Linked DNA regions of Homo sapiens: region 2 is linked to region 1. The links come from fine-mapping of genetic effects on gene expression. A gene starts in region 1. The other region holds a variant in brackets. All regions are shown on one strand. Distances are between the middles of the regions.

Region 1 (12,650 bases):
GTAAAGCCACAGACTTTTATGTGACCTACATACTTGTACTGCATGAGTAACAGGGCACTGTCATGATGTGTCACTGAGCTAAGAGTAGGCATGCTCCTTGGTGGAATATTTTTATTGTGTGTAGGAAATTCTGGGACATACTAAAGAAAAATGGATCATAAACACTCCTTCCAATGGGCTCCCATCAGAAAGCTGTTCATATCTCTAGTCCACCATGTACTTCTTTGCATTGTTTATCTGCTTCCATCACTTTCTTCTACTACCAAGCTGTGAGCTTCTTGAAGGCAGTCTCCACATTATTTATCTTCATATCTCCAGTGCTCACCAGAACCTAGCACATAGCACTCAGCAAGTGTTAAATGAAGACAGGATGTCACAGTAATCTTCATCTTTTTCAGTTTCCATAGTAAATAAGCAGGAGAAATGTCTCCATGTATATTTTGTATATTAAAATTTACAAACCAAAAATTGAGATCTATTGTCTGAAACACAATCTGACAGTGAGAGAAAATATTTGAAATCTAGATGATCTCAGAAAATTCTGAACAGATGAATGCCCTATCCATGTGTGAGTTACATTATTCATTTATTCTTCCCTTTCTCTCTCCATCTATCCAGCCATTCACTCACCTATCTGTCCCTCATCATCCATCCATTCATCCATGACTTTATTAAAGGACACCACCAACTCACATTTTCAAAAATATGGAGGAAATTTCTTGCTTTAGACTTATGAAAATAACTGCAAAGTGGCAAGATTACCTTTCTTTGCTTTAGTACAGAATTTGTTGCTAACAGCTCATATAATATAGGATTTTATTCAAATTTATAAAAATATTTAAAAATTTTTTTTCAAAATGTAAACAAAAGGAAAAGAACACATTTTATTACTTTTTAAAATCTTTCTACCACAAGCTGGCAGATTCTAGAAAAAGAGGACTGGCCACAGTGGCTCAGGCCTGTAATCCCAGCACTTTGGGAGGGCAAGGTGGGTGGATCATTTGAGGTCAGGAGTTCAAGACCAGCTTGGACAACATGGCAAAACACCATCTCTACTAAAAAATACAAAAATTAGCTGGGCGTGGTGGTGCATGCCTGTAATCCCAGCTACTTGGGAGGCTGAGGCACAAGAATCGCTTGAACCCAGGAGGCAGAAGTTTCAGTGAGCCGAGATCGTACCATTGCACTCCAGGCTGGGTGACAAAAGTGACAGAATTCTTCAGTTTTGAGATAAAAATAAACTTCTGTTCCATAGGCACAAATAAGCCTTAGTGTTTATGTTTATTGTGAGGTAAATAGTAGAAAGATTAAGTCAAATCATACAATCCTCATGTGGGGTATAAATGTGGATTTTTTGCATTAGAAAATATTTTGGAATAAAACAACCTCACAAATTTGCCATACATACCAGAATAAGAAACTTGTTAAAATGTTGTAATGCCTAATAACTATTGTTAGAATGTATTAGTCGTGTCCTTTCAATAGTTTAATATGACCAAGCCATCTGTTTGAAATGTAATTTTGCCTGAGATTTTGTCTCTAGTTTTTTAATTCTTCTAAACTAAACGTCCAGCAGAATTCTCTTAAATAACTAGGGCCTGATTCAAAGTTTTCACTATATCCACGTTGTTTGCCAAGTACTTACTGTCTATGGACAGGTTTACCATGATAAAGAACATAACATGCAAAAACAGACCATTATTTTAATGAAGATTGTATGTGAAATCAGAATTATTTAGGCTATCTGTATATCTATTCATGAAAATACAGAACAGCTTTAAGATTTTTTATTACTGATTACTGACCCTCTTCTACACCTTCCCCTTTTTCCCCAAGTGGATAGATATTTTTTTCTCAGTGATGATATTCACCCCTTTTTTTAGGATGGAGATTTCTCCTCCCAGTGGATTAGAAAGAAGAAGCATGGCTATTTCTTTGCCATGCTGGCCACAGCCTTCTTAGCTGTATCCTCCAAGTCAATGCCATAAGTAATGGGGAGTTAGTTAGATGCTATTAAGCATATTTTAAGGCCCCTGGACATTGAATCCTTCAAACTTGACCACCAGAGGGGCCATGAGTTCTAGTTCTCAGCAGTGTTTGATGATGCCATTGGCAATGACAGCAAAATTCACTATCACACCTAAAACAATGTTGACGGTGATTTCAAACTTAGGATCAGCAATGAGCAATTTAAATGTTTAGTACACCTGAGCTTCCTCTACACTACTGCTAATATCTAAGAAGTTGGCTGGGCTTTGATCATTAAGGGTAATAACGTCTCAGAGAGCCATGTATGGCCCAGCATCACTTAGTAAGGATTCCCATCTAGTTTTAATTTTAGATCATATCTGGTTGCTTCATTTTCGATAGACACACCTTGAATTTGTTGGCCATGCCAAATATGTTTTTTGTGGACATTCTGCATTGTCCTCAAGGTTTATCATGACATCAAAATAGACAACCTATCATTCCAGAGTTTCACCAAAGGTTTCACTTCAAGCTAAGTAGCATATAATTTCAGGAAGCAGTAAAACAGCTGGTTAAGCCTGATTTTTGTAGACCTGTAGAAGCCTACATTTTCTCCCCTTTACTAAACTTGACTGTTCTCTATGCCCTCAAAATGTAAATTTCCTCCTTAAAAATAAATTCCGGTAAGAAGCTGCCACTTATAACGCCTCTCCTGGAGGCTGCCATCAGTAAAGGCCATTGCAGGATTAGCCCATTAAAACTTTATTGTGGGAACATCACACCCAGTGCCAGTTACGAAATATTCTAACTTTTACCCTGTTTTCTGACATCAGTTTCTTGCTCTTAGGTACCTGCAGGAGCAGCCATCTTTTAGATGTTAATTCAACTCCCTTGGACTTCTCTGAAAGGAGTGGGGCCTGAGCACCAGCATTCACAAAATTTTTTGACCTGCATTGTCATAGGAGAATGACACCTTAAACAAAAACCAGGCACAGAGGAGTCTGACTAGGTAACTGAGATGAGAGAAGAAGGGACCTTTTTTCCTCATTTTATTGAGATGGGTCTCACTATGTTGCCCAAGCTGGTCTCAAATTCCTGGGCTCAATTGATCCTCCCACCTCAGCCTCCCAAGTAATGGGGACTATAGGAAACAGCCACCATGCCCAGCGAGAAGGGTACTTCATACAGATTTAATTCTACATTGGAAACCAACCTTGAGAAAAAGCCTACATTGTGTGTGTGTGTGTTGGGGCAGGGAGCGGTGTGTATGCTTCTGTCCAGATCTGAGTTCCTGAAAATCATAGTGTCTTATCCAGCTTTGTATCCCCAGTATCTAGTATAGTGCCTTATATATACTAAGTGCTTAATAAATGGTTATGACATGAATTACGGTTTGGATGAGTCCTTGTGCCACTGGAAACCCTCTCGAGATCACATTTAGAGGACTGCCACAGCAGCATGTCTGAGAGTCTTAGTTTGTTTAGTTTAACGCATTCTCTAACATGATGATTAACCCTCATGTAATCTCAGTCACAATTTTATCACTATAGATATTAATGAGCATGTTGAATCCAGCTGCTGCTGTGGTTTTACGTCCAGAATACCATAAGCCTATAAAATCCATTCCATTGGAAAGCAGAGTGGCCTTACATTAATTTCTAAGCTTTACACAACAATTAGGCAAAATTAGACAAGACTTCATGCTTTTTAAGTCCAAAGATTCCCTTTCTAGTTTTATTATGAAGCCAATACATCGAAGAATACTTTCCTCCCACAGTGCTTAAGACCAGTGCTAGATTACAAATACATAAATGGGCCATGACTTCCACCCCACCCACAAAATGATCCAGGCAGGAAATTCCAACTTGCTTGTCCATTGCTCAATCTACCCTTTGCTAAAGGAAGACATTTCTAGGTGAGGACATTTATAGTCAAATAAATTCTAAATGATAATGTTCAGTAACAGATCTTCTGAGCAAGGAAATATATCCACCTGTCTGGAAAAGACTCAAATTCTGTGTCACTTGTAATGGGCCAGTATGGAGTCTAAGCTGATGACAAAGCATCTCCTAGCTCTTCCCCTTCCTCTTCAGCTCTCCGGCTGTAACTCTGGGGAGGCTGTAGAGGCACAACATTCTCCTCTCTGGATTCTTCACTCATTACCTGTAAATGCTACATCACATGATCTCAGTTTCTTCAAATACCCTCTCTGTTGACTGCATGTTAATCTGTTCAATAGGTATTTTTATCCCAAAATAATGCAGGACCCAGAGGTGGAGAAATCTGTGGATTTGTGGTGGAAGAGAAATTATGAAAAGAAAAACTGAGCCAGATCCTGGTGAAGCAATTCTAGGGTTAGCAAGAAAACCAATTAGAAAAGAACTATAGTCTAAGGAGCCACATAGAGTTGAGAACCTGCTTACATTCATTCATTCCTTTCACACTTTTCCTTGAGTATCTATTACATATTGGTCATCTGCTAAGTTCTGTAATACAAAGATGAATGAGACCCTCCCCTTGAATTACTCACATTAAACAGTGGCGAGATTGTCTCTAATTGCTATGGCATACATGTGTACAAATATGCTTTGAAGAAGTCAGTTCTAAGTGATACCAAGGCTGCCTCACACTTAGACAATAAGAGAATCAGAGAGAAAAGCTTGTCATTCAGACAGTAGGTAGATTCAAACAGAAGATGTATGACAGAGAATAACTATTGACATAAATAGAGGCCAAAGATGGTGAAAAGGTGAGAGGGTGGGAGTGGTGTGCAAGACCCTGGAAGAGACTTTTGGGATGCAGGAGATCTGGGGATCCAGGTTGATTCTGGACATTTTAGAAATGCCATTCCTAAAGGTTAGATAAAGGATATAATTTGTTGTGGAGATTAAACTCTCTAGCCCTCCCCTACCATTTTCCATTCATCACATGGGATTGCAGCTACCTACCTTGAGTGGTTTGAGTTTAGGAAAGTTTTAGCTGAGGGAATCAACTGAAAGGAGTAAAAGTCACTGGTTCAGCAACAAACTGGCAGAGATCCATGTCCATGTCATTTGTTTGGCCTAGAGCCAATATTAATATTTTTATTGATGTTTTTTGGAAGGATGAGTCAAGACTCTATAGCGTAATTTGATGGATAACACAAAGACAAAAATTAACAGAATTACTAGACTTCTGTCCTTAGTGATTATTTACAGTTTAGGTGTTTATTTTCTGTCTTTTTCAACTAGACTGTAAGTTCCATGAGGGCAGGAACTTTGTCTTGTTTGTTCTTATTTTCCTAACATGTAGAATGGCGCCTGCAAATAACAGTTGCTCAGTAAGTAGTTTTACATTGCTTGAACCACAGTGATAGGCTGTGATGAGTACTGTGATAGCAGTATGCACTGGTGCTATGAGAGCACAGCATTCACTCTGTCTTGAGGTTCAGGGTAGGCTTCAGAGAGAAGGTGACATTTGAGCTTGAAGAGTGAGTAGCACTTCATGAAATAGAATGAGAGAGAATGGTATTTCTTTTTTTTTTTTTTTTTTTTTGAGAATGGTATTTCAGAAAGGGTGGAACACCATGAATAAAGCAATGTGTTATTAAAAAAATAGTATGTTTGGGGGATAATAAAAAGTTTATCTTTTGAATTCTGATACTTAAATAGTCAACAGTATGCATGGGAAGTAAATTTCCTTCCATACAGGCATACATTACTTCATGCAATAGTTGTGAAACAAGGACCACAGGGAGATGCAAGCAAATTACGTTTAAAAGACTATGGAGTAAAATTCTTTTGTCAGGTGGATTAATCTATCCCTAATGAATCTCTCCCGAGAAGCTTTTCCCTCCAAAGGTCTATCTTTTTCCAAGACGTTTATTCAGGGAGGTATCCTTCATATCTCCCTGAAAAGAAAGAAAAGTAAATAGTGGCTAATGCTTTTAACAATGATTAAAAAAATCAGAAAGGTCAAGGCTTTAAGGTCATTTAATGTGAAGAGGAAATAAGATAAATGTTCAGCATTTAAGGATTATCACTAACCCAACTTTTCATAAACACAGAATAGTGGAGGTGGAACCTGCAGAGACTTTTATTCAGGGAACATCCACTGCGGGACAGGCAGATGCTTTGGTATCCAGGCTGCTCCGCGCCGCCAGCTGCCCAAGTAATCCTCACAACAGCCCGCAGAGGTAGGTATTAACCACCCTTTGTTTTACAGGTGAGGAAACAGAGGCACAAGACGGTCAGGTAACCGGCTTGGAGTGATGAATGAAACTAAAATAAGCGCCGACCTCGAAGCTCATTTGGTCTTTCCCCAACCCCATGCGGCCTCATTAAAGAGACTTTTTTGATTAGCTATGGAGAAAACGTTCTTCATCAAACATGAAATGCAATCCGGAAGGCACAGGTTTCTCTCTCTCTCTCTCTCTCTCTCTCTCTCTCTCTCTCTCTCTCTCTCTCTCTCTCTCTCTCTCTCTCTCTCTCTCTCTCTCTCTCTCTCTCTCTCTCTCTCTCTCTGTCTGTATGAAGTGGCTTCTGGGGCCCCACGAAGCAATGTTCCCCCAAACAGCCCCGGACGAGGGTGTCTATAATTCATCCTGTTATAATTAACCCCGGGGTTACGGTATTGCTTCTAAAGCCCTTGTTGAAATGCAGATATGGACCTCGCAGGATTGACACGATCTCTCAATTACACCTAATTAAAGAGCTGGCTCTTTGAGAATCTGACCCGACTGGGCCAGGAGTGGGAAAGGCGGGGGCTGCCGGTTGGGGTGAGGGATAGGGTTCTGCAGTCCCGGGAAGGCAGGTGAAGGGTGGGGATCAGGATTGGAAGAGTCACTGGGTGCTCGGTGAGACGAGGGAGGTTGGAGCTGAACTAAAACAAAGTTTGACTTCTGGACAATTATCCAGGGAGAGGGCGGGGAACACACCTTGCCCGGACTGTCTGGGAATCCCATTGACAGGTCATCTCAGGTTCACCATCTTCCTGTCGTGGGCTCCTCCAGGGAGGCCACCCGGGAGCAATTAAACTGGGCCACACCAGCCACCTCCCACAGCAGCGGGGTCCGCAGATTTAACCCTTTCCCCCCAGATTCCGGCACTGGGTGCCGCGCTCTCTCCCCCAGCACCGCGCCCGCGCCCCCGGCTCCCGGACTGGGCATGCTCAGTAGCCGCCCGCTTCGTGCTCCCAGGGAAGCCTCTGCACGCCCTCCCCCGCTGCTCTCGGTCGCCTCCTCGCCGCCAGCCGCCCCGGGTGCATCCCGGCTTGCTCCGCTCCACGCGACCCAGATTCCTGCCCCGCCCCCGCCCCTTCCGCGCCCGCAGCCAGTGCGGCAGCCGCGGCCGCCCCTGTCCAGCCTCGGCGCCCGGGACCGAGCGCGTCGCTCGCCGCCGCGGAGCGCGTAGCCGGAGCGCCTGGGGAAGGCGGAGATGAAGACCACGCCGCCGCGCGCCGGGAGCTGCTGAGCCTACCGCCGCCAGAGTCCAGGTGATTGGCGACCCCAGAGGAGCCTAGGGAGTAGGGGCGAATGCCCTTGGGGAGGAGAGAGGTGCGGCGAGGACGCGAGGCATCACGCAAGCTGCGCTGTGCCTGGGAGGCAGCAGAAATGCTAAGCATCGGGGGCAGAGAGGGAACGGGAATGAAAGTGCACTCTGCCTTGGTGCAGGGGCTCCGGGGTCACCCAGGACAGTGATTTCCCCTTCTATCCTGTCCTCCCAATTAACACCCGAGAGGCTGCAGGTCGGCGCGAGAGGCTGTTTGCATCTCGGCCCGGGCGTAGGTCGCCTAGCGACCTAACGCCGAGGGCTCGGGGAAGGGATCCCAGACAGAGCCAAAATGGAAGGCGGGACAAGGGCGGCCTGGCTGGGGCGAGGGGCTGGTCTGGGTCCCTGGGAACCCCTTGCCTTGTGGGCTTCGGTCTCCAGGGAGGAGCTAGGCAGCCGGGCTGCGGGGCCGCCGGACTGTGGGGTCCTCCGCGCAGCGAGCTGGGAGGAGCGGTCGGCTGGGCTGTTGAGCTGCGCCTCCTCCAACTGCTGGGAAACTCCGCACTTCAATATTGGAGCATCTCTTTCCCGGGCAGGTAGAATTGGACAGCCGAGTGGGGAGTGACAGCTGACAGCTGACGGGGCTGTTAAAAGCAGAGCAGTGGAGTGTGGTGGTGGGGTGAGCTGTTGTGGGTGCTTTTTTTTGTTTTCCAAGTGTGGGTACGGGCTGTTCTGACTCAGTGTTTATGCTCAACCTCTAAGCGGCGAGTTCGGTAACACATCTTATGAATATTTCAGGAACGACCTCACGGGCTCACTTGCTTCAGATCAAGTTTAATGAATATGTTGTCAGCCTTTCTGCTCTGCACAGTGCCCTGAGCTTTCCACATTTCATCCCTTTCCCCCACCACCTAGGAAAATACGCTGCTAACCCCCAGTGGGCCGTAGATTGGTACTATCAATTGAGTCTGTCATTTGGAGAGACCAATTTTGGGCAGGCATCCAGGCATTGTTCTGCATCTCTGCAATGTATACGTTTTGTGCCGGTGGCTTGACAACCGTCCTTAACTGGTGCTGCCAATATGGTGGAAAGCAGGTAGTATGCTTGTATTGGGATAAATGTCTTAATTCATTAACCTATTATGACAACACGTAGTTACAGCAGACTTAGTCATTCCCTCCCCCAGAAGTTTTCTCGGGGGTCAGTTTAGTTGGTATTTTGCCAAAGGCACACTCTTGTATCTACATTGGGAGGTATTTCTCTCATCTTAATCTTTTTCATAGGAAGAAGAAATAAATGTCTTCTCTGTAAGACATCACTGTCAAGAACACTGAAAGAAGAACCCATTAACGTAGGGAACGTTGAGGACTGGAACAGGTTGTAGGGCGTCTTCCTACACTTTGGGTTATAACTTCCATTGCATCACCACCATTTACCAGTAAACCAGCACACACAGCAATCAGTACTCGAAATGGTTCTCTTTTGCAGAAAAAGCCTGCTTTTCTCCCAGCTTTGGTGAGATAGATACGTAATCTTCGTAAAGACCTATAAGGAATTCCTCTGTGGAACAAAATTTTAAGCCTCCAGTACAGGATGCTGAAAGAAGCAACTCTTTAATCTTGCCAGCCCATGCACAGTGAAGCTGAAGTGCTTCAATTTACAGATGTTTTACATTTAGGGAAGGCTTTTCCAACAAAGACCTACCGCAGTTACATCACAGGCTCCACCTCCGCCTGCCAGGCTGCTTCTGCAAGGCTGTTAGTAAGGATACTATGTATTGCTGTGCTTGATTAATGAAGAAAATAAATCTCCAAATCAAAGATTTGTTTATTTCTCTTTTTGCATTCTGCTGATTTAATTGAAAATATGAAAATTTCAAAAATTAATACTTGCAGCCAGGACTTAACTGAGGCATGATAATAACTCTATAAATGTTAGCTTTCCAAGAGATCTTAAGCAAAATTACAGTATTCTTTGTAAAATCTTCGATAAATTGTATTATAAGAAAAATTCTATGAAATGGACAAAATAAGTGAAAATGTCATGTAATAAATTAAGCAGCATTTCTTAAAGCACGTTACTGAGATGTTCAGAAAGAAACCTAGTTGCATTAACAGACATGAAATCTGGATGATTGAGAAGTTTGCGGAGCTTGCATACAAATCCCCAGGTGCATTAAAGGAAGCGTTCTCCGAGTCCTCTGAGAATTTTTAACAAAGCACTGTTAGGTTTTCCAGATTTAGCAAATAAAAAGGTGGGCTGCCCAGTTAAATTTGAATTTCAGATAAACAGTGAATTATTGTTTTTACCTATGTCCCATGTAATATTTGGTACGAACTTATACTACAAAATATTATTAGTTGTTTATCCTAAATTCAGTTTCGACTGGGCAGCCTGTATTTTTCTGGCAACCTTAGTTACTGGAAATGTTTCATTCCTCCTTTTTGGGTCATTTATGGGTTGAAAAAATAAAGTGGAGCAGAAATCATATGCTGTTCTGCAGACAATCTGGGACAAGCTCAGTTCTGGTTCAAGCTTTTGAAAATAACTCATGCTTAAAAGTGAACAGTTTCACTTCAACACATATTGGTTGGGTATCTCTGCTTGCTAGGCTTAGTGGAAGGTGCCAAGGATGCAAAGATGACATGGGGAAATGGGGCAGGGGGAGGGATCTGCATCATAAGTTCTGGGAGTTGCTGTGCCAGTAGTGTGTGTTTATGGTGGTGGTGGAGGGGCGTGTCTACTGTAGGAGCCTAGAAGAGGCACTGAATTATGCTGGGCAGCTGTAGTCAGGGAGTGAGACGCCTAGCAGTTTTGACAGGGCTGGCCTTGAATAAGAGAGCGAGATCTTATCCTGGGCGAAAATGAGAAAAAAAAAAAATCTCTGTGTTAATAGTTAGTAGAGTGGTGCTGGAAGTTGAAGGATTTGATCTGATAGCCTCAGTGAGAGGACAGAGTGGCCTGCTGAGAATGAGGGAAGGGAGGGGGATTCTGAAAGAAAGATTTTAAATAGTTGCCAATGGGAATGGAAGAGAGAGCTGAAAAGGGACAAGTGCAGGAATTAGCAAATGGTACTTCGGTGAATGGACCTCAGTGCATTTAAAATAGCAATTGATCTGCTCTTGACTCATACCCTAAGTGCTAGTTTACTATTCTGTTACCATCTTGGTCTCCTCAGGTAAAAAGTTGTCATCACACAATACTGGAATATATCATTTAAATGTTTTATTACAATTATATAAAAGTAGATAATTAAATATAATATTTGAGATGCCGATCAATAGTCAGTTTCTTCTTGGCACAAATTTCTGAAATAAGATAAGCAGATGTCTTGGTTTTAGCAAATCTGTTGCTTCAAGTAGGAAAAGAAATTAAATTGAGATCATTTCTGATTTGATCCAGCTATCTTTAAAAAACTAGATTCTGATGATGGAAAGAGTGTACATTTTACAGAAATAGCACTATGTGAAAATGACTCTATGCTTGTAGTACCACAGAGGACCTAGTCAGAATGTTCCAAATGCAGTTAATTCCAAAAAACTGGCACACCACATACATGTGTGTCTTTGAAGACCCAGAAGCTACTTTCATTATTGAATAACGTGGTAAATTTCCAGGAAAGTTGATGATCAAACCACTGCAGTCCATGTAGAGAACAGTTACTCATTTCTTGAAGATTCCAATTTGCAGACTCCAGCAACTGATAATACAATGTCGTTCTAGATTGCCCTTCTGTCAATAAATCTGTTTTTTTTTTTTTGGAACCATCCTTCAGAAGAGCCTCATGTGTTTGAGTGTCCATATGTGTGGTTAAATTTCCACTTCAATTTTATAATAAGGTCTTAAAATTATAAAAATTACCCTATACTAAAACTTATAACTAAGTAGCTCATTAGGGTCTTTTTTCTCAAATGATTATCCTTTCAACAGAGCAGAAAACAGTTCTACTTCAGGTTTTTCTACTGTTCCTGTTTGCAATGTTTGCCAAACACATTCTGCCTTATAATTCTGATAGTATATGATAAAAAAATATGATCAAGAATGTATTGATGTTGCTAAAATTTCAAGGCAATTAGGCCATAGGTTTTGTTTTCAGCAAGGCTTCGCATGAACACGGCTTATTAAAGAAAGGCTTACTGCAGTAATCCTCAATGACAGTTTATGTGGAATATCACCCAGAGAGAACCTTAACTGAAATTGTGTGCCCAATTTACATTTTATATTCTAAGTCCTCAGTGGATACTCTGAATTTAAAGATTCTGAAGACAGTATGTTCTTTCATCCTGGGAGCTTTTAACCTTCCAACTCACTTATGCTGACCATGAGCAAGTCATATTTTATATCAGTTTCTATGCTGTAAAATGGAAGGTATGCAAATTAAAAAAATAATATTGTGCCAGCCCTAATCTCAGTATCTATAAAATAAACTCTTAAGTGTTTCTATGGTTCCAAGGGATGAATAACTTTATTCTCAATGAAAGTAGATGATTTGTACAATGTCTGGGTACTCTATATGATATTTAAGATGCCATCAAAATAATTCACAATTTGATTTTTTTTGCTTTTTTGGTGCAAGGCAAAATAATTGTGGCAAATGCCTAAGGAGAGCTTGTTAAGCCTTTTTAAAAAATCAGTCTCATGCAAGGCAATAACTGTAGATTCAAAAGTCTTTACATAACTTTTAAATGTTTCCATTTTAATTATTGGGATTAGGACTTGGGTAATTAGAATGCTGGTTTTAAGAGCTCATTTCAGCTGTTATAACTCTCCTTTCTATTTTTTATTTTTTTTGTGTACAAGTAGTTGGTGAAAGGCTACCATATGTTTTGAAGGTTTCATTCATAATGAAACTAATAATTTATTTATCTCACAGCTGTTTTTTGACTTAACAGATATCATCAGTGACATCAGAAACTCTGTTCCCTAAATCTTTTTTACTTTACCAGTTGGCATTATCAATATTTAAAATGTGAATTAATCAATCTTTGGAATGAATTTACTGTACATTTCTTACTTTTTCCTTTAAAAGAATAGGAATATTCCGCTCTTCAGAATTTGGAAGCCAGATTTTCTGAAGATTCCATATTCCATAAACACTGACATGTTAATTTCAGATTTCCTTTGCTTTATAATCCACTGAAATGAGCAAAAACTTAAATAATTGCTTTTAGTTGAGAAGCTCAATTGTACATTCTCTTAAAATGATAAACATT
Region 2 (12,650 bases), 25 kb after region 1:
AAAGCTTACAGCATATTGCCTGGCACATAATAAGTACTTTGTGAATATTTGCTATTATCATTAATTTTATAAAACTTTAAGCTAAGACTTAACTTTTAAAATAAAATTTTGTTTATAAATGTGCTGTCTACAACTTTTTATTAAACTGGGGTAATCTCAAATTAGGAAGATTATAAAAATGAAATAGTATTTACTTTGTAGATTACCTTTTATTTATGTATAAACAGTATGAGTCCACCAGCCTTTTGGTTGTTACAGGGGATAAACTTGGAATGTGAAGAGCTACGCAGAAAGTAGCTTTCTTTGTCTCATCTAGGGATTTCAAGATTTTAAAGAAAGGAGTTCCGTCCCTTCTAGTTGAGTCTCTAATTCATTCCCTGGGGTGCTTAATAGAGAGATCGACTTCTAAGAGTTAGGGTTACCCCGTAGCACTTTACAAAGAGCCTCAGGGGGCTTCTTGCTCAAAGGAAGCAAGGCTGGTTTCTTGATGCCGGGCGAGAGGATGAGTTTTCAGAAGTAGCAGACCACACTCATTACTGCCCCTTTTCTCTCAGCTGGAAAAGAAAAAAAGACAAGAGGCAGATAACCTCATAGCTTAGCACTGAAGTATCAACTGATCTCTAGGGGCGTTTGATATGACAAGCACAATCATTTGATCCTTCCCTTTGGATGAGTTCAGGCCAATGTCCCTGTATACATTGAGAAAAATTACTACAAATCAGGGGAACAGGTTAGTAAACCCAGGATTATAATCATATTCTTTATTTTAGTTAAAAATAAATCTACAGATTTGTTTTCTTCCAATTGGGAGATTTGCAGTTTGTTTTATTAGTACTGTGATTGAGTAATGCTGGTAAAAAAGTACTTTTCTAAAAAAGTACAAAGTTCATTTTGACAAGTATATATTAAGCAAGCAGTGTGTCAGGCATTGTACCCGTCCATGGGTGTCCTAGAAAAGCATACAGTCCAGAGCAGAAGGAGACATGAAACAGATAATTTTGGAACAATATTAGCGATTTATTAGTAACACAGAGCAGGTAATTCTAATGTCTCGCTTGAAAAACACCTCTAGAGAGGAAGTCTTTGGGAAGGTTCAGCACAGAGAATGATTTTTATGTTCATCTTGATTTTTGTGAAGCAGGTGGCATTAAAGTTTATGTATGAACAAAAAGGGTGAATTTTTCTATATGTAACTAATAACTGAGTAAAGCTGAATTACACAAATAAAACGTCAATATCTGGGCCAGGCCTGGTGGTAAAGTGATCACAGTACTTTGGGAGGCCAAGGTGGGCAGATCACTTGAGGCCGGGAGTTCGAGACCAGCCTGGCCAACATGTCAAAACCCCGTCTGTACTAAAAATACAAAAATTAGCTGTGTGTGGTGGTGTATGCCTGTAATCTGAGCTACTCGGGAGGCTGAGACACAGAATTGCTTGAAACCGGGAGGCAGAGGTTGCAGTGAGCCAAGATTGTGCCACTGCACTCCACCCTGGGTGACAGGGTGAGATCCTATCTAAAAAAAAAAAAAAAAAAAGTAAATATCTGTATTTTTCAATTAATGAAACAGGTATAAACCAGGCTTACATGTAACCATATTGAAGTCAACAGGCTGATGTGTAAAAACACAGGAGAAGTGTATCATGGCCGCCTCATTGTTAGAATGCTATGCAGAAGAAGAGTGAACTTAAATTCTTCCTATCCTGAAAGGGCTCTGTATTCCATAAATGATGCTGGGATAGCATGCTAGCCATATGCAGAAGAATGGAATTGGAACCCAACCTATCACTATCTACAAAAATTAACTCAAGATGGATTAAAGATTTAAATGTAAAACCTCAAACTGTAAGAATCCAAAAAAAAAAAAAAAAAAAGAAAACCTAGGGAACATCATTCTGGATATCAGCCTTGGGAAAGAATTTATGACTAAGTCTTCAAAAGCAATTGCAACAAAAAACAAAAATTGATATGTGGGACTTAATTAAAGAGCTTCTACACAGCAAAAGAAACTATCAACAGAGTAAACAGACAACTGACAGAATGGGAGAAAATATTCACAAACTATGCATCTGACAAGGGTCTAAAACCAGGCTTAATTAAACTAAAGAACTTCTGCATGGCAAAAGAAATTATTGACAAAGTAAACAGACAACAGACAGAATGGGAGAAAATAGTCACAAACTATGCATCTGACAAGGATCTAAAACCAGCATCTATAAGGAACTTGAACAATTCAACATCCAAAAAACAAATCACCTCATTAAAAAGTGGCCAAGGCTGGGTGTGGTGGCTCATGTCTGGATTCCCAGCACTTTGGGAGGCCGAGGTGGGCGGATCACAAGGTCAGGAGATCGAGACCATCCTGGCTAACACGGTGAAACCTCATCTCTACTAAAAATATTTTTTAAAAAATTAGCCGGTCGTGGTGGCAGGTGCCTGTAGTCCCAGCTACTCTGGAGGCTGAAGCAGGAGAATGGCGTGAACCTGGGAGGTGGAGCTTGCAGTGAGCATAGATCAAGCCACTGCACTCCATCTTGGGCAACAGAGCCAGACTCCATCTCAAAAAAAAAAAAAAAAAAAAAAAAGTGGGCAAAAGACACGAACAGACACTTCTCAATAGAAGACATACAAGCAGCCAACAAACATGAAGAAAATGCAAATCAAAACCACAATGAGATACCATCTCACATTAGCAAGAATGGCTATTATTAAGAAGTCCAAAAACAGCAGATGCTGGCAAGGCTGGGAGAAAAGGGAATGTTATACACTGCTGGTGGGAATGTAAATTAGTTCAGCCACTATGGAAAGCAGTTTGGCAATATCTCAAAGACCTTAAAACGATCTACCATTTGACCCAGCAATCCCACTGTTGGGTATATATCCAAAAGAAAATAAATCATTCGACAAAAAGACAAATGCATATGTTCGTCACAGCATATGTTCACAATAACAAAGACATGGGATCAACCAAGGTGCCCATTAACAGTGAACTGGATAAAGAATATGTGTTATGTATACCATAGAATACTACACAGCCATAAAATGGAATAAAATCATGTCCTTTGAAGCAACATGGATACAGCTGGATGCCATTATCCTAAGAAAATTAACACGGAAAACAAAATACCAGATGTTCTCACTTATAGGTGGGAGCTAAACATTGGGTACTTATGGACATAAAGATGGCAACAATAGACACTGGTGACTACTAGAGTTGGGAGGGAGGAGGGGAGCAAAGGTTGAAAAACTAACTATTGGATACTATGCTCACTACCTGGGTGACAGGATCGATTGTACCTAAACCTCAGCATCACGCAACATACGCATATAACAAACCTGCAAATATACTCCCTGAATTTAAAATAAAAGTTGAAATTATCTTGAAAAAATTCTCCCCATGCTTAGGTCCTGCTGAACCACTTGGGAAATGCTGGTTTGGCTATAGCAGAGGCTTAGTAGAATGAAATAGATGAGCTCAGTACCACTCATGGAAAAATAATTCAAAGGGCATTTCTTATCAATAGTGGCTCAGAACATCACACACACAGCTATGATTTGCTAAACACAGATTGTCTAATTAACAGCAAATAGAACATTAACAAGTGGGTCTCCTTTAAAACAAAGCTACTTGACTTTAAAAAGAAACAGTAATTTTTCATTTTCTATATAAAACATTTAGCATAGTTATTTAATGAATATTCTGTGAATAATGAGTTAAATAGCATTTGCACAGGCTTCTTCTGCCACCCAAAGCCATTTTTGGTGTTTCCTGTTTGGGGGACAGATAATGAGATCTAATTGTTATCTTTGTTTCCTGTTTGGGGGACAGACAATTAGAACTAATGGTTATTTTCCTTCCCTTCACTTTTCCCATTCAATCAGCAAGTCCAGTTGATTCTACCTTCTAAATATTTTTTACTTCTGTTCAGTTCTCTCCCTCCCCACAGTCATCATCCCAGTTCAGGTCACACCAACTTGCGAGAATTTATTTTAACAGTCTCTTAAGTGATTCTTCACTTGACAAAATGATCTTTTACTTTAGAGGAGAACATAATAAGAATGACAAAATTATAATACTAATAATAAATACTACTCACTGAATGTATATTAAATACCTGTAACTATGCTGAGTGCCTTACATGCTTTGGTTCTTTTAATCCTTAGAACAATCCTACAAGCTAATTTAATTACTTACCCCATTTAATCCTAGAGAGGTCAAGCAACTTGTCTAAAGCTGCCACTTGGCTAGTGGTAGATCCTAGACAAGAACTTTGTCTCCAAAACTTGTGCTCTCAACCACCATGCACACTCCCTGCCATATCTGCCAAATTTTCTCTTAATAGGAAGGCTCTTTTACTGTATTAAACTATGCTGCGTTACTCAGCACAATATTGGACACATAAACATTCAAGAAGTTTTTACAAGGGATAAATTCAAGAACTATTATGTAAAGAACGGGGAGTTAAAGTATTATTTCACTTATCTCACATCATTATGAAATAAAATTTTTTTCAGGTAAGCCAATTTTATAGTTAACTGAAATCAAACCACTTAACAGTACAGAATTGTTAAAAATTTAGATAAACTATTTCTAAAATGCAATCCATTCTTTACTACCTTAGTTGCATGAGAGTTCTTTTTCAATCATATCCTAATGACAAAGAGCTTTTGTTATGAACAAGTGTCATATATGCTACTTATTTAGTAATTCCTTCTGAACTATGGTTTTAATTACCATCTACATGCTGAGGAAGCCCAAATCTTTGTTTCCAACCTGTGTTGTCTTCCTGACCTTCAGATCCATGAATCTTTACCACTTGGTCCTGAAAACTAAAAATGTTCCAAAGACCTTTTTATACCCAGATCCCCAAATATGCTTCTCCAAAATATCATATCTTAATGAATAATTCCTCTGTCTATCCAGTTGCTGGCCACAAACATGGACATAATGTTCAACTCCCCCTTTTCCTTTGCCAACCACTGCCGCAGTCAATCAATTAACAAAGGTCCTATTGAATCTACCTTCTAACTATCTCTCATATCTTTCACACCTCTGTCTGTCCATTGCCTTATCCTGCCATTAATATCTTTGCCTGGGTTATTGCAACAAGTCTGTAGATGGTATCCTATATCTATAATTTTAGGTATAGGATTTATTCCTCATATTACAATTTATTCTTCATATTACAATCAGAGTATTTTGTTTTGTTTTGTTTTGAGACGGAGTCTCTGTTGCCCAGGCTGGAGTGCAATGGTGCAATCTTGGCTCACTGCAACTTCCACCTCCCGGGTTCAAGCAATTCTCCTGCCTCAGCCTCCTGAGTAACTGGGGCTACAGGCACACACCACCACACCCGGCTAATTTTTGTATTTTTAGTACAGACAGGGTTTCACCATGTTGGCCAGGATGGTCTCGATCTCCTGACCTCGTGATCCACCCGCC[T/C]CGGCCTCCCAAAGTGCTGGGATTACAGGCATAAGCCACCATGCCCGGCCCAGAGTGTATTTTTTAAACTAGAGATCTGATCATGTCACATCTCAGCTGGAAAGCTTTCAATAGCTCCTTATTGCTCTTCAGATAAGGTTCAAACTTCAACATTACTTACTAAGCCTGCTTGATCTGACCCTTACTTGCTTTTCCTTATCTTGCCATCACTATTTTTCCCATCCCTCTCACTGAGCACCACACTAAGTCATGTTGGAACTTTATCTCTTATACATATTCTGCACTCTTTTGCCTTTAGAGCTTTGCATGTGCTATCTGGAGAACCCCCAACCCCTACATCTAGGCTAAGCATCTCTCCTACTCACTGCCACAGCACCTATTTCCACTTGTAATACTGTATTTAAGTCCCTGTTTGTTTCTCTGTATCATCTTCTCTCCTCTCCTCCCCAAAGACTGTTGCATCTACAGGGTAGAGCTATGCCCCTTTTGTTTACCCTATAGTATCCCTAGTGCCTCACTATGTCTAGAGCGTAGCAGGCATTAACATATTTTATAAACTATTTTGAAAACAGTTTTAGATTTACAGAAAAGCTACAAAGATAGTACAGAGGGTTCCCTTATACTTTCCCCTGTTGTCAGCATCTTTTTTTTTTTTTTTTTTTTTTTTTGAGACGTAGTCTCACTCTGTCACCAGGCTGGAGTGCAGTGGCGTGATCTCGGCTCACTGCAACCTCTGCCTCCCGGGTTCAAGCGATTCTCCTGCCTCAGCCTCCCAAGTAGCTGGGATTACAGGCACGCGCTGCCACACCCAGCTAATTTTGTATTTTTAGTAGAGACGGGGTTTCACCATGTTGGCCAGGATGGTCTCGATCTCCTCACCTCGTGATCCACCCACCTCGGCCTCCCAAAGTGCTGGGATTACAGGCGTGAGCCACCACACCCAGCCTGTTGTCAGCATCTTACGTTAATATTATACATTTGTCACAACTAATGGACCAATACTGATACCTTATTATTAACTAAAGTCCTTGCTTCATTCAATTTTTCTTAGTTTTTACCTAATGTCCTTTTTTCTATTCCAGGATCCAATCAGGATAATACATTACGTGTAATAGTCATAGCTCCTTTGGCTTGCACCTCTTGGCTGTGATAGTTTCTTAGACTTTCCTTGTTTTTTAAGCTTTTCAGAGTTTTGAGGGGTACTGATTAGATATTTTGTGGCATGCCCTTGAATTGGGGTTTGTCGAATGTTCTCATGATTAGACTGGGGTTATATGTTTGGGGGAGTAAAGTGCCATTTTCATCATATCAGGTCAAGGTTACATGCTATCAACATGACTTATCACTGGTGATCTTAGCCTTGATCACCTGGCTGAGGCAGTGTTTGTCAGGTTTTTCCTTTTTTTTTTTTTTTTTTTTTTTTTTTTGAGACAGAGTCTCACTTTGTTGCCCAGGCTGGAGTGCAGTGGTGCCATCTTGCCTCACTGCAACCTCTGCCTCCCAGGTTCAAGCAATTCTCCTGCCTCAGCCTCCCAAGTAGCTGGGATTACAGGTGCCCACCACCACACCTGGCTAATTTTTGTATTTTTAGTAGAGATGGGGTTTTGCCATGTTGGCCAGGCTGGTCTCAAACTGCTGGCCTCAAGTGATCTGCCTGCCTCCACCTTCCAAAGTGCTGAGATTACAGGTGTGAGCCACTGTGCCCAGCCCTACTGTAGTTATTCTTTTTTCCCCTATCCACACTGTACTCAGAAAGTCATATGTCCAGTTTATATTTAAGGGATAGGGAGGTTTTTGTTTGGTTTGTTTTTGAGACAGAGTCTCACTCCTTCACCCAGGCTGGAGTGCAGTGGCGCATTCTCGGGTCACTGTAACCTCCACCTCCCGGTTCAAGTGATTCTCCTGCCTCAATCTCCTGAGTAACTGGGACTATAGGCACGCACTACCACACCCAGCCAATTTCTGTATTTTTAGTAGAGATGAGGTTTCTTCATGTTGGCCATGCTGGTCTTGAACGCCTGACCTCAAGTGATCTGCCTGCCTCGGTTTCCCAAAGTGCTGGGATTACAGGCGTGAGCCAGGGTGCCTGGCCTGCTCCACCTACTTGAGGGCAGAGTGGCTACGTCAATTATTTGACCATTGGGAGTTCTTTCAGTTGATTGTTGTGTTTATTTGACACACGCCTATTTTGTTTACCTTGAGCACTTCTTGACTTTCTTGTGCTGCAATATGCTTCAGGTTCACCTTGCCCTGACCCAGCTTTAGAATCAACCATTTCCCAGGGTCCCCTAGATGCCTTTATTGTTGAATGTATTAGAAATTATGATCCGAGTGTTGGGTGGGAACTAACCAAATTAAATTAAAATTTGGATTCATTTAGAAAAAACACAAAAGTACAAAGGATAATATATGTTCCCACCACTCAAAATGAATAAACGTTATTTTCCTTTTATTTTGCCTCAGATATATTTTAAGAAATAAAACACACAAAGTTGAGAAGATCATTTTTCTCCTTCCAATCCTAAACCCCACCTCTCTTCCCAAAAGCAACCACAGTCTTAAATTGGTGTATAGACAGTTTTTTCAAGCATGTATGGAATATTTACAGAAATAAACGTGTTAAATAAGAGACTGGCTTTTATTCGAGCTAAGTATGAGTTCCCACACTCTGGGCTGTTCTAGTTGGCAATGTGTCTCTGCCCGCAGCTCTTTTTCGAATGTATATTCGTTTCCTTGCATTTCTGCTGCAGTGGATGTTCCATTTCTCTCTTTTCTCATGAGATAACTTCTCTCCACTTGCAGACACTCTCTCTTCTATAGTCTGTTTTATCCCCTCTCATCCTAACTTGCTGCTTTGCAGGCTGCTCCTAGTGTCTTCCTTATCAAAAGGAAGAAGGCTGATAACCTGATGTACACTTTGTGAAAGCAAATCATAAACCAAAAAGTGCCATGCAAATATCAAATCTCACTGCTCTGTTCACAGTGCCAAAAGACAATGGGGCCTGGGGCATCATTCATTTCTTTGTAGTATCTTGCGCTTTAAGTGATTCTTGAGCTTGAGCTCTTTAACAGTTGTCTTTTATCTTGAAGTTAGTTGGTTCCAGTTATTTTTGAGTTGTACTTCTACAAAGTTGGGGCCGCCAGATACTAGACTATTGGATATCTGGAAATCCAGTTGGTTAATTTTATTGTTCTTCATTTTTATTTTTCTTAGGAATACTATTCCTAAAGATATAGGAACAATACCCAAAATAAAGGAAAAGACTGATATTGAAGAGATTGCTCATGAAATTCATAATTTCTCCAGCAAGTGACTTAAAATGAAAGGCTAATTGTATTAATATAAAGTCTATACCTGTAACCTCTATCCATTGAATTGCATTGCTCTGTGGGCAGTTCTGTTGATAATGTTCTGGGTGGCTGGCATGTTAACTGCTTGCCTCAGTAAGCAGAAATTTTTGGTTTGCAGCTTCCAGCCTTATTAGTAAATATACCTAATATCTAATTTCTTCCCACAGTTGACACTTACTTTGACAAAGGCAAATTTGGAAGCAATTACTTGAGGACAGTTCATATAGCATCTGGACAGTCAACACGGGCACCATGAAGCACTTCCTGAGGTATGTGTTTACGGTTCCCTGGCTGAGCCCTCTGCAGTGGGAGAAACCTCCTCACTGGTTAGGGTAATATTACCAGTCATCGTTTGTGATCCTGTGACCAGGACTCCTAAGATTCTGTGAAATAGCACTGCATTTTTGCTAAGAATAACTTGGCCATGAGATTCCTCTGCTAACTCTATATGCGTGCTGATGATAAGACAGAGCACTTGTAGATGGCGAGAGAGTGTGGGCACAAAAGCATGGCACTTTAGACAGCCCTGGTGCCATGTGTCTCTGCACAGTGGTACACCGCTGGCCTGAAAGGTTTAAGGAAATAGCTGTCAATGAATCACTTAATACAATTTGTGTAAAATCATTTTCTGGAAATAAGTATCCTTTTAAATATCCTTTAATTTAGATTTTGGTTGGCTGGCCAATCCATATGGGCATTTTAAAATTTTGTGGGCGGTCAAACTATATGTTCTAAGCTTCCGCTCTTCTTACCTCAGTGATGTCTCTGAAATTTGTATCAATTGTTGGTTCCCTGAAGATTGTGCTGGACAGAGTATGCCATAAATTGGTATGTTTGGGGTGATCTTTTTTAGTTTTGAAAAGCATTTGACTGGACCTAAAGTTATAATTATTTTCAAGAGTATTGACTGTCATTCAGTTGTCTATTAATGGAATTCCCAGATAAATTTTGCATAATATTAAAATACGGCAAAATAAAGTTAGTCAGGTCCTGAATGTGAGAAAATACAACATACTTTCCAGAAGATCGGGCTTCTTTTCCTCAAGATGGTGACCTGCTTCTGTTACACATTCTTGTCTTTCACTCGGGCCTGTTTTCTCTAAGCAAATTAATAGGCTTGCATCTTTTAAGAAATGATTTGATTCCTACAATGGCCATAATTTAAGATCCACTGCCCCCCACCCCAGTGGTTTTGGTTCCATTGTTGTTTCTGGAGCACCCAGATCAGTTTGTGTGGGATTCACTGGGTTTTGATGCAGCTACTGGTAGTTTACTGGATCTTCGAATTGTGAAAACCTCTCAGGAAGTTACTGTGAAACAATTTATAGTCATCAGCATTTGTTTTATTGTACAGAATACTGTTTATCTTAGCTGTGTAAAAATATAGTATTTGAAAAATCAGGAGGACATTTGCCAGCCAAGTATTTGACCTAATATGTTCTTGGTTGTCATGGTAATTAACTGATCTATCTATACATTCATGAAAATTTGGCATTTGTGCACACCTCCTGAATGTAAACATGGTGTCTTTCATCTGCAGAATCATGTTAACAGAAAGCTTTAGTGTGAGATGAAGCTTAGAATTTAGGAGCTCCCTTTGTAAAAGTGGTGATGATGGTGGTAAGGTTGCCAAGTCTTGTACTACTCAATTTCTTCCTCGATGTCTTATTTGTTTTAGAAAAACTTGAGCAGCCTCAAAACCAGTAATTTTAGGAAAAATAGTAGCCTTTGGTTCTGTTAGTTTTATTGTTAAACTGAATAGGTGCACAAAGAGTACATTTTTAAATTAATTTGTATATGATGATTTAGAACTGGTACAGTGAAAATCTACCATTGTAATTTTGCATAGACTAGCACCAAGGGTTACAGAACCAACACATCCCTATTAGTTATGTGTTCTGATAAACATTTTTTTCATGTATCTTGGAGTGTATATTTTATAAATATTATATGGCATTGATTATTTATGTGAAACTAAAGCTAGGATAACAGATTGTACATTAAAACAGAAACTTGAGGATTTTCATTGACCATTGGTTTTGAAATAATAAAAGGAAACTTGATCATTTCCCTTCTTTAGTTGATTTATTTTCTGTAGTCCATTTCCACAGATGTTGGACGATTTTGGCAATCTTTTCATTTGAACCAAAGAGAAGGTTATGTAAGCAAAGCCTGAATGAATCAGATGTTAATTCCTGAGCTCAGCAAATGTATTATGGAGAATGAGGAGCTGACTTTTCACTGGGAAGAATTCAGCATTATTTAAAAGCCCATGCAGTGATTAATCTGTCAACTTCTGAGATGTTCTAGAATGAAATGCTCCATGCACAGTCCCAGAAGAAATTAGGTTAACCTTAGAGAAACCAGGTTGTGGGAAAAAATGGATTTTGATCTACATTTAGGATACATGATACCCAATTGCTACCATCAGATATATTAATGGTATAAATATTCAGAGCAAAAAGGAATAGAGAAAATATTCAATGTATGTCAAAAATTACATGAAATATAAGGAATAAATGCTATTTGATTAGTACACCTGGCTAAAATGTGTATTTTAAATTGAGGATAGAAATGGGATATTGGGTATGTATCCCCAGACCATCCAGTCTGACTTTAGCCATGATGTGCATGAAAAGAAAACATGAGGCTGGGCGTGGTGGCTCACGCCCGTAATCCCAGCATTTTGGGAGGCCTAGGCGGGCAGATCACGAGGTCAAGAGATCGAGACCATCCTGGCCAACATGGTGAAACCATCTCTACTAAAAATACAGAAATTAACTGGGTGTGGTGGCACATGCCTGTAGTCCCAGTTACTTAGGAAGCTGAGGCAGGAGAATCGCTTGAACCAGGGAGTCAGAAGTTAAGGTGAGCCGAGATAATGCCACTGCATTCCAGCCTGGCAAAAGAGCGAGACTCCGTCTCAAAAACAAAAAAAAGAAGAGAAAAGAAAAAGAAAACATGGGAAAACATGGATAACAAAACATATCTACATGTGATCAGAAAAAGAAGGAACATTTTTTAAGTCCCAGCTAGAACAAAAGCTTAGGGTTTCATTTTTGTAATATATTTTACTAACTTTAATTCAGTTGATGTGTATAACAGAGAAGTCTGAAAACTTGTGCTGAAGATCATTTCCCTCGTTGGGATTTAGTTATTGAGGTTATATTTTTTAAAGTTATCAGAACATGATTAATTTTGGAAATTAATAAAGGAAAATTTTAAAGTCACCCATGTAAATCATTGCTTCCAACTGTTCCAGTCTCAGAATCTCAGTTTCTTGGCCCTGCATCTCACCTCGTTATTTTCCTTCCTCCAGCAGAAAAGAGGAAAGGAAAATATCTGCCAAGCTCAAACCTCTGTGGGAGGAACTGAGCAATACAGCAGACTTATCCCATGTCCCAACTTTGAGGCAATCAAGGGAAAAAACTATTTTTCTAGTATGATTAGGTAAATAAGGGCTTACAATTAGCAAAAATAACTACAAATTGGATTTTTAAGTCATTCATACTTGATTAATATCTTGGTCCACTAAGTCATTTAGTGTGCATTCATTGCTAATAATGCAAGTATTTATTCCACTTTCATTCTCTCTTCATAGCAAATGTAATTAAGTAAGACATAACATCCCATTTTACAAAGGAGGACAAGGAGGCTTAGTAAAGTTAAGTGACTTCAACAAAGGCACATAGATGTTTGAATGCAGGCCTCTTTGACTTCCAAGCTGTTTCTCATGTTTGTGTCACATTACCCCATTACTGTGAGCCCACTGTGAGGTATTGTAGGTGATTCAAAAATGAATGTGAGGGCCAGGCATGGTGGCTCACACCTGTAATCCCAGCACTTTGGGAGGCCAAG

The links. PIP is the estimated chance that this variant, and not a neighbour inherited with it, causes the effect. A credible set is the group of variants that fine-mapping cannot tell apart.
Region 2: its variant is the best candidate, but not a certain one, in a credible set for the expression of ELMOD1 in lung (TOPMed, PIP 0.66).

The regions. Positions count from the first base shown.
Region 1 is chr11:107,583,970-107,596,619 of GRCh38, forward strand. It overlaps ELMOD1 (ELMO domain containing 1), which reads left to right and starts at 7,178. Exons shown (of 12, transcript NM_018712.4): 1 at 7,178-7,440. It also overlaps the pseudogene SUCLG2P3. RefSeq lists silencers at 7,061-7,170, 7,231-7,370 and an enhancer at 7,621-7,680.
Region 2 is chr11:107,609,146-107,621,795 of GRCh38, forward strand. It overlaps ELMOD1 (ELMO domain containing 1), which reads left to right. Exons shown (of 12, transcript NM_018712.4): 2 at 8,960-9,061. The coding sequence starts at 9,045. Among named protein-coding and RNA genes, the nearest start is that of ELMOD1, 24 kb to the left of the region's middle. The variant T/C (reference allele first, on the strand shown) is at 5,442.